Homo sapiens: one gene and its partner. The protein of the gene in region 2 interacts with the protein of the main gene of each other region in a pairwise test. Each region holds a gene or a part of one and is shown on either strand. Other genes may lie near its edges.

Region 1 (3,808 bases), on a different chromosome or scaffold from region 2:
CCTGAATCCCCTGCTGTCTCCTCCAGGGTGGCCGGCAGTCCCCGAAGTTCTCCAGGCAGCTCCAGCCAGCAGTGGAAGGAGGCAGGCAGGCCCTGGGGAAGGACGCTGTCAGGAGTGTGGACACGCTGTTGGCAGACCTCACTGCCCTGTCCCCTTCCCTCCTGATGGCTCACTCGGAAATGTTGAAGGTTCCGCACGCGTAGGGCCAAATGGCTCTCCCAGCCCACAGGCACCAGGTGGGGACCTGCCAGGCCTTCGACCTGTGGGCAAGCCCCTGGGCCACGCACCTGGATGTCCACCTGGGAAAACAAGAGCCCTCAGCCCTTCAGAACTCAAAGGGCCTACTGCTGGGCGGGTCTGGGAAGGGTGGAGAAGGGACAGCCCTGTCTCTGCCCGAAGTTCGGGCCCACCCACCTCCTGGGCGCTGTAGATGGTCCTCTCGCCCTCTGGGCAGTGCTCTCCGTACACGCAGTGGCTACTCTGCGGGCACCAGTGACACCGCCAGATGCTGCCCACGCAAGCGCGACACCTAGAGGGGCAGGGTGGCTGCTCAACTGAGTGCCCTCTGGGGTCGCCACCCCTACCCCAGGAGGCAGGCCCAGGGACTCACGGGGCAGCCGCCTCCAAGGCCTGGACGGCACTGCAGTCATAAAAGGAGAAGTTGGTGGCAGCCACAGTCACGTCCTCGAACATCAGGGCCAGGGGCACAGTGACGTGGTCTGGGAGGGGACAGTGGGGGCAGGACAGGTCAGGTGGCTCATTACCCCTCCAGCCTCCATCCCAGCCCCCTACCCCATGGGCCACTCACCTGTGCCTGGAGGGTTAAGTGGCACCTGGTCTTGGGGAGGGGTGACACAGGCCACGTGGGGCCCTTCCACATGAGCCAAGCTGTCATAGTCCCCGAACGCACAATGGAAGTATTCATCTGCATCCAGGATGGGCAGCCGGGGGACAGACAAAGTGACCTGGGATGCAGCGGGGAGAAACCGGGAGATGTAGCCAGAGAGAGGGGGCAGCAGAGGCCATGGGAGAGGAAGGAGGACGGGAGGCAGGCGGGGTTCATGCTCCAGGCAGTGGTCATGCTGCCCAGAGGGCCCAGTGGTGGTGGGCGGCTTACCTGGCCCTGCTCCTGGCGGGGGTGGTGGCCCGGCAGCAGGCTCTGGATGTGCAGGCAGTGGCTGTCCTCCTCATAACTCCACAGCCACTGGTTCAGCTGGCCTGCCCGCCCGCACTGGCCCTTCCGGGTACACCTGCCAGGCAGGGGTCCATCAGGTCACCGTGGGGGTCCTAGACTCCAAGGATGACCGGCAACAGGGGCCTGGGGAGGCCGGCCCAGCTGGAGTGCAGTGGGGTGCAATGAGCAGGAGGCGTGAAGGGGACTGTGTCCAGAGAGAAAGGGGCCAAGCAGGCAGGGCCTCATGGCCAAGGCGTGGGCTCCAGCCCTGAGAGGCAGGTGCGGCTGGGCTGAGGGACGCACAGTGACTCAGGGCTGCCTTAAAGGATTCCAGGGGCTGCCGTGTGGAGCACCGGCTGGAGGACAGCTGTGTGGGGTTCTGGACCCTGGCTGGGGCTGCTGGGATGAGGAGTCCACAGGCCGGGTGGTGTCGGAAAAGGGGGGTGCCAACCAGATTGACGGCTCAGTGAGATGGGGCAGGATGGGTGACCTCCGTGGTGGCCCTGAGTCTCTCCAACAGGCAGGGTTGGCCTCCCGGCACGCCTAGGGCTACTTCCAGGGGCAGCCTCGTGGCACACACCACCCGTTGGCCCTAGCCTAGGCACAGGCCCCGTGCTCACCTGCCCTGGAGGACACACCAGCCACACAGCGGGTCCTGGGCCTGGAGGCAGCTGGCACAGTCAGGGAACTGGGGGCAGGCTGCCACAGGTATCCGGTCCACCTGGAGGGGCAGCAGAGCAGAGAGGCAATGGGCACGAGACTTGGGCCGCGTGTGCTGGCCCCTTCAGCCCCAGGATGGCCCTCACCTGGTGGGCAGTCAGGACATAGAGGTGACTGCCACTGCTGTCCAGCAGCAGGTCTGGGCTGATGGCTGAGCCTGGAGGCCCCACTTGCTGGGAGTGGTAAACCTGGCCCTGGGAGCCGTGGAGAAAGACCTGAGTGGGGGGACAAGGACGAGGCTGGGCCAGATGGCCAAAGGTTGCCTGTTCCAGGGACACGCCCTCCTCCTAGTGGGGGCTCCTTTTTAGAGCCAGTTCCCCTTCCTGCCGGGCCATCGAGGGAGGACACATCACTTCCCCCACTCAGCACCCTCAGGCCTAGGACACTCTCCAGGGAACCATGACACCGGGGCAGCAGCGGCACCCTGGGTGAGGCCCCGTGTACCAGGGACAGTTCTGCCAGGTGGGAGGGCAGCTATGGGGAGACAGGAAGGTCACCAGGAGGCACCACACCCTGCCCACCTCACCCAGCCACCCCAGCCACCTTCACCGTGAGCCACCACCAGCTGGTGAAGGCCGGGCTGCAGGGGGCAGTGCTCAGCCAGCAGTCACTGTGTGGCAAAGTCCCCTGACCCAACCGTGGGATGCGGGCTAAGAGGTGGAAGTTGCTGGGGGCTTTCCTGAGCCTCCGTGGCCAGGGGCACACCCAGCCGGACAGCAAGGCCGGGCCCTCACCTTGTACAGCTGGCCCTGGGTGTCCCCCAGGAAGGCTATCATGTGCCCATCTGCCTGGAGAGCTGCCACGGCGCTGACCGGCTGCCCGAGCTTCAGCAGAGGCTGGACCTCCAGGGGCTGGCGGCCAGCAATGGGGCTGGGGGTGTGCTCGTCGCCACAGGGGTACGACTCGGGGGAATCCTACGTGGCAGGAAGTGGAGAATCAGCCCCCGGAAGAGAGCAGAGAGGCAGTCAGGGGGGGTACCCAGGCTGCCAGCGGGAGGAGAGCCAGGCACCCTGGGATGACCCCAAGGCCCAGCAATCAGGGCCGAAGGGCCAGGGCACCTGGCAAGCTCATAGCATCCAGAGGGAGAAAGGTGGAAAGAAATGGGTGGAGAGCAGGCAGGAGACCTGGAGACTCAGCTGACCCCTGGCTGAGAGGTTGGCTGGCACTTCCCATGGGCAGGCACCCCTGTCCAGTGCTGAAAGATGCCAGCCATCCACAGAGAGGGGGGATGGAAGGGCATGCCACTCACAAGGGGCAGGGTGACGCAGCGCGACGTGACGCCGTACTCCACGGTGGCTTCCTCTGCGCCGCTGGGGCCCCGGCCGCCCGCCGTGTAGCAGAGTCTCCGGGCCTGCTCCATGCTGGCACCCAGCTCCACCATGGGGAAGGCACAGAGCGCCGCCTGGGTGCCCCTTGGGCCCGCGGCAAACACCCCTAGCAAGGTGCCCGGGGCAAGGAAGGCGGCCTGGATGAGGCCCTGGCCCTGGCAGGCGAGGGGGACCTCCACGTAGGAGTACAGGTTGGTGTCCCCCAGGCAGACGCGGGCCACGTAGGAGCGGTACTCAGCCTGGGCCCGGGCCCCGCGGCGGCGGAACACGAAGTAGGCGGAGCGGGCGTCGGCAAAGGCCCCGACGTAGCTGTTGTTGTAGTCGGAGAAGTCGCCCACCACCAGGCGGCCCAGGCCCTCGCTGGAGAAGGGCTGAGACCCGGCCAGCTGGCGGATGGCCAGGGGTGGCACCCCTGCCGACAGCTTGCCCGCCAGGCCTCTGGCCACAAGCAGGAGGTCCCGGCCGGGCAAGGGCACCACCAGCCCCACCGTTGCCACTCCCGGGGTATTGGCAGCCACAAACTGCCCGTCACCAGGGTCCTCAGCCTGGTACAGCACCTCGGCCACATCCCCAAGGCGCCGTGTCT
Region 2 (2,754 bases):
AGGTGGTAGCGGGTGGGGGAAGAGAGCAGGGGAGGGGTGTGCCAAATGGGTCTGGGGGGCTTGGCTGCTTTCATCGGACTTGCCTGGGTGAAGGGAATGAGGAGAGGGCAGGCGGGAGAGCTGATGGGAGCCCCTGCAGGTGCTGGCCTACGCCTGCGTGTACAGCTTCTACAGCCAGGACGCAGAGTACATGGATGTGGTGGAGCAGCAGACAGAGAACCTGGAGCTGCACACCAATGCCCTGCAGATCCTCCTGGGTGAGCCACCCCTGCCAGCCAGGCCCTCCTCCTGCCTCCTCCCCTCTGTTGCACAGCCCGGCCCCTCCCAGACAGGTCAAGCGGCACCCTTACCTTCCCTCTCTCCTCTTCCTCTTCATTCTTCATGGCCTTCTCACTGCCTGGCTGTTAAAGCTCAGGTCGAAAGCCTACATTGTAAGGTGCCCAAGGGCGCAGATGTTCGTGGATGTTTCTTGGTTTCTGGTCTTTACCCTGCTCCCCTAGGGAGCTTCATGAGAATGTCTAGAGCTGCACCTGGTGCTTGGTAGACGTTCCATAGGTGTTTGTTGGAGGAAGGAATGGATGAGAATGAGAAGGGAGGGAGCCTCTGTGCCTGCCCCCTCTGCAGAGGAAACCCTGCTGCGGTGCAGAGACCTGGCCTCCTCCCTGCGCCTCCTGCGGGCCGACTGCCTCAGCACGGGCATGGAGCTGCTCCGGCGGATCCAGGAGAGGCTGCTTGCCATCCTGCAGCATTCTGCCCAGGTACTGCCCGGCCCAGACCCCTTCTGCTCCTGCATTCTGCGGGAGTTGAGGTCCTCCTGTCCCAGCACAGCCCCTGCCCTGGGGCGAGTCCAGAAGGAAAGGCAGCAAAGCGGGTGAATGGATGTTAGACCTGGGCGCACATCCCGGCTTTTGGGCCAACCTGCCTGATGCTGCTGGACCCTATCACTTCACCTCCTGGGGATTCCTACAAAATAAAGGGGTTGGCTAGCCCACATCAAGGGTATTTGGTCAGGTGCCTATCAGAATCACTTGGGGAACTTTTCCAGACTGTACTTCCCAGATAGGGATTTGAAATCCTAAGAGTGGGCATCAGGGGATTGGGGTCACTGGAGCAAGGGCTCTCCCAGGCTCTCTCCAGCTCTAATGCACTGATGCTGAGTCTAAACTGTGAGTCCTGTCCTCAGGTTGCTTACTGACTGGTAAGTCACATGGGCAGAAAAGACATAGATTCTGTAAGCTCTTTAAGCACAGGGTCGTGTGCCTCACCTGGTACCCCGTATCCCTGGAGACCATCTGTGGGTGAACTCACAAAGGCAGTGTTTCATGAAGTGCTGTGCTGGGAGGGGAGCAGTCCTAGCAGGAGCTTGGCCCTCCCAGAGCATCAGTGGAAGGAATGCTGGGTCCAAAGGCCCCATGCCCTCTACCTCCTTCTCAAATCCTTCTGTCTGCTCACCAGGATTTCCGGGTTGGTCTTCAGAGTCCATCAGTAGAGGCCTGGGAGGCAAAAGGACCCAACATGCCTGGCAGTCAGTAAGTGGGGTGGGCAGAGCCATGGAGGAGGCAGTGGGACATGGCAGCCTCCTCTGGGCTGAGTGTGGTGGCTCTCCCTAGGCCCCAGGCCTCCTCAGGGCCAGAGGCAGAAGAGGAGGAGGAAGACGATGAGGATGATGTGCCCGAGTGGCAGCAGGATGAGTTTGATGAGGAGCTGGACAATGACAGCTTCTCCTACGATGAGTCTGAGAACCTGGACCAAGAGACTTTCTTCTTTGGTGATGAGGAAGAGGATGAAGATGAGGCCTATGACTGAGGGGGCAGATGCAGGAAACACCTAGAGCAGCCCCAGAGTCACGGGGCTGAGGGGGCGGGAGCTGCCCCTGTCATAGGGAGGGGGATTCCCAGCGTCTGTAGTGCTTCCTGTTTGCTGAATAAAGGTCTCTTTCTCACACACATCTCTGGGAGCAGGCTGACAGCTTCACCAGGGGCCAGCCAAGTTGCCACTGCCCTGGCCTCATATCTACCCACACCCCTCATCTTTATGTTTCCTTTAGACCTCCGGACTCTTCTATCCTCCGAGAAGGCTCAGAGCAGATTCATTTGACTTAAGCTGATAAAGGGAAGTGAAGGTTGGCATGGAAAGGGCCACGTGCAGCCCCAGCCCAGTTCAGAGGAGACAGAGAGAGGGATGGCCACCCACAGGAGCAACCATCCTCCCAACTCTTTTTTTTTTTCTGAGATGGAGTTTCACTTTTGTCCCCCAGGCTGGAGTGCAATGGTGTGATCTCGGCTCACTGCAACCTCTGCCTGATGGGTTCAAGCGATTCTCCTGCCTCAGCCTCCTGAGTAGCTGGGATTACAGGCATGCACCACCATGCCCAGCTAATTTTTATATTTTTAGTAGAGACAGGGTTTCCCACATTGGCCAGGCTGGTCTCGAACTCCTGAGCTCAGGTGATCCGCCCGCCTCAGCCTCTGAAAGTGCTGGGATTACAGGCGTGAGCCACTGTGCCCAGCCCTTCCTCCCAACTCTTTTTTTTTTTTTTTTTTTCTGAGAGGGAGTCTCGCTCTGTTGCCCAGGCTGGAGTGCAGTGGCGTGATCTGGGCTCACTGCAAGCTCCACCTCCCGGGTTCACGCTATTCTCTTGCCTCAGCCTCCTGAGTAGCTGGGACTACAGGCGCTCACCACCTCGCCCGGCTAATTTTTTGCATTTTTAGTAGAGACGGGGTTTCACCGTTTTAGCCAGGATTGTCTCGATCT

The links.
Region 1: the proteins of CUL9 (region 2) and PLXNB3 interact in a two-hybrid assay, tested with the Homo sapiens proteins (one large-scale study listed by IntAct).

The regions. Positions count from the first base shown.
Region 1 is NC_000023.11:153,767,249-153,771,056, reverse strand, and holds part of PLXNB3 (plexin-B3 isoform 1 precursor), read right to left. Parts: coding exon 3,144-3,808; intron 2,809-3,143; coding exon 2,629-2,808; intron 2,110-2,628; coding exon 1,981-2,109; intron 1,896-1,980; coding exon 1,795-1,895; intron 1,251-1,794; coding exon 1,118-1,250; intron 966-1,117; coding exon 809-965; intron 720-808; coding exon 611-719; intron 530-610; coding exon 415-529; intron 300-414; coding exon 174-299; intron 93-173; coding exon 1-92. UniProt on the Homo sapiens protein: Receptor for SEMA5A that plays a role in axon guidance, invasive growth and cell migration. Stimulates neurite outgrowth and mediates Ca(2+)/Mg(2+)-dependent cell aggregation.
Region 2 is NC_000006.12:43,222,640-43,225,393, forward strand, and holds the end of CUL9 (cullin-9), read left to right. Parts: coding exon 1-2; intron 3-139; coding exon 140-257; intron 258-624; coding exon 625-758; intron 759-1,455; coding exon 1,456-1,529; intron 1,530-1,610; coding exon 1,611-1,806; 3' UTR 1,807-1,948; downstream 1,949-2,754. UniProt on the Homo sapiens protein: Core component of a Cul9-RING ubiquitin-protein ligase complex composed of CUL9 and RBX1. The CUL9-RBX1 complex mediates ubiquitination and subsequent degradation of BIRC5 and is required to maintain microtubule dynamics and genome integrity.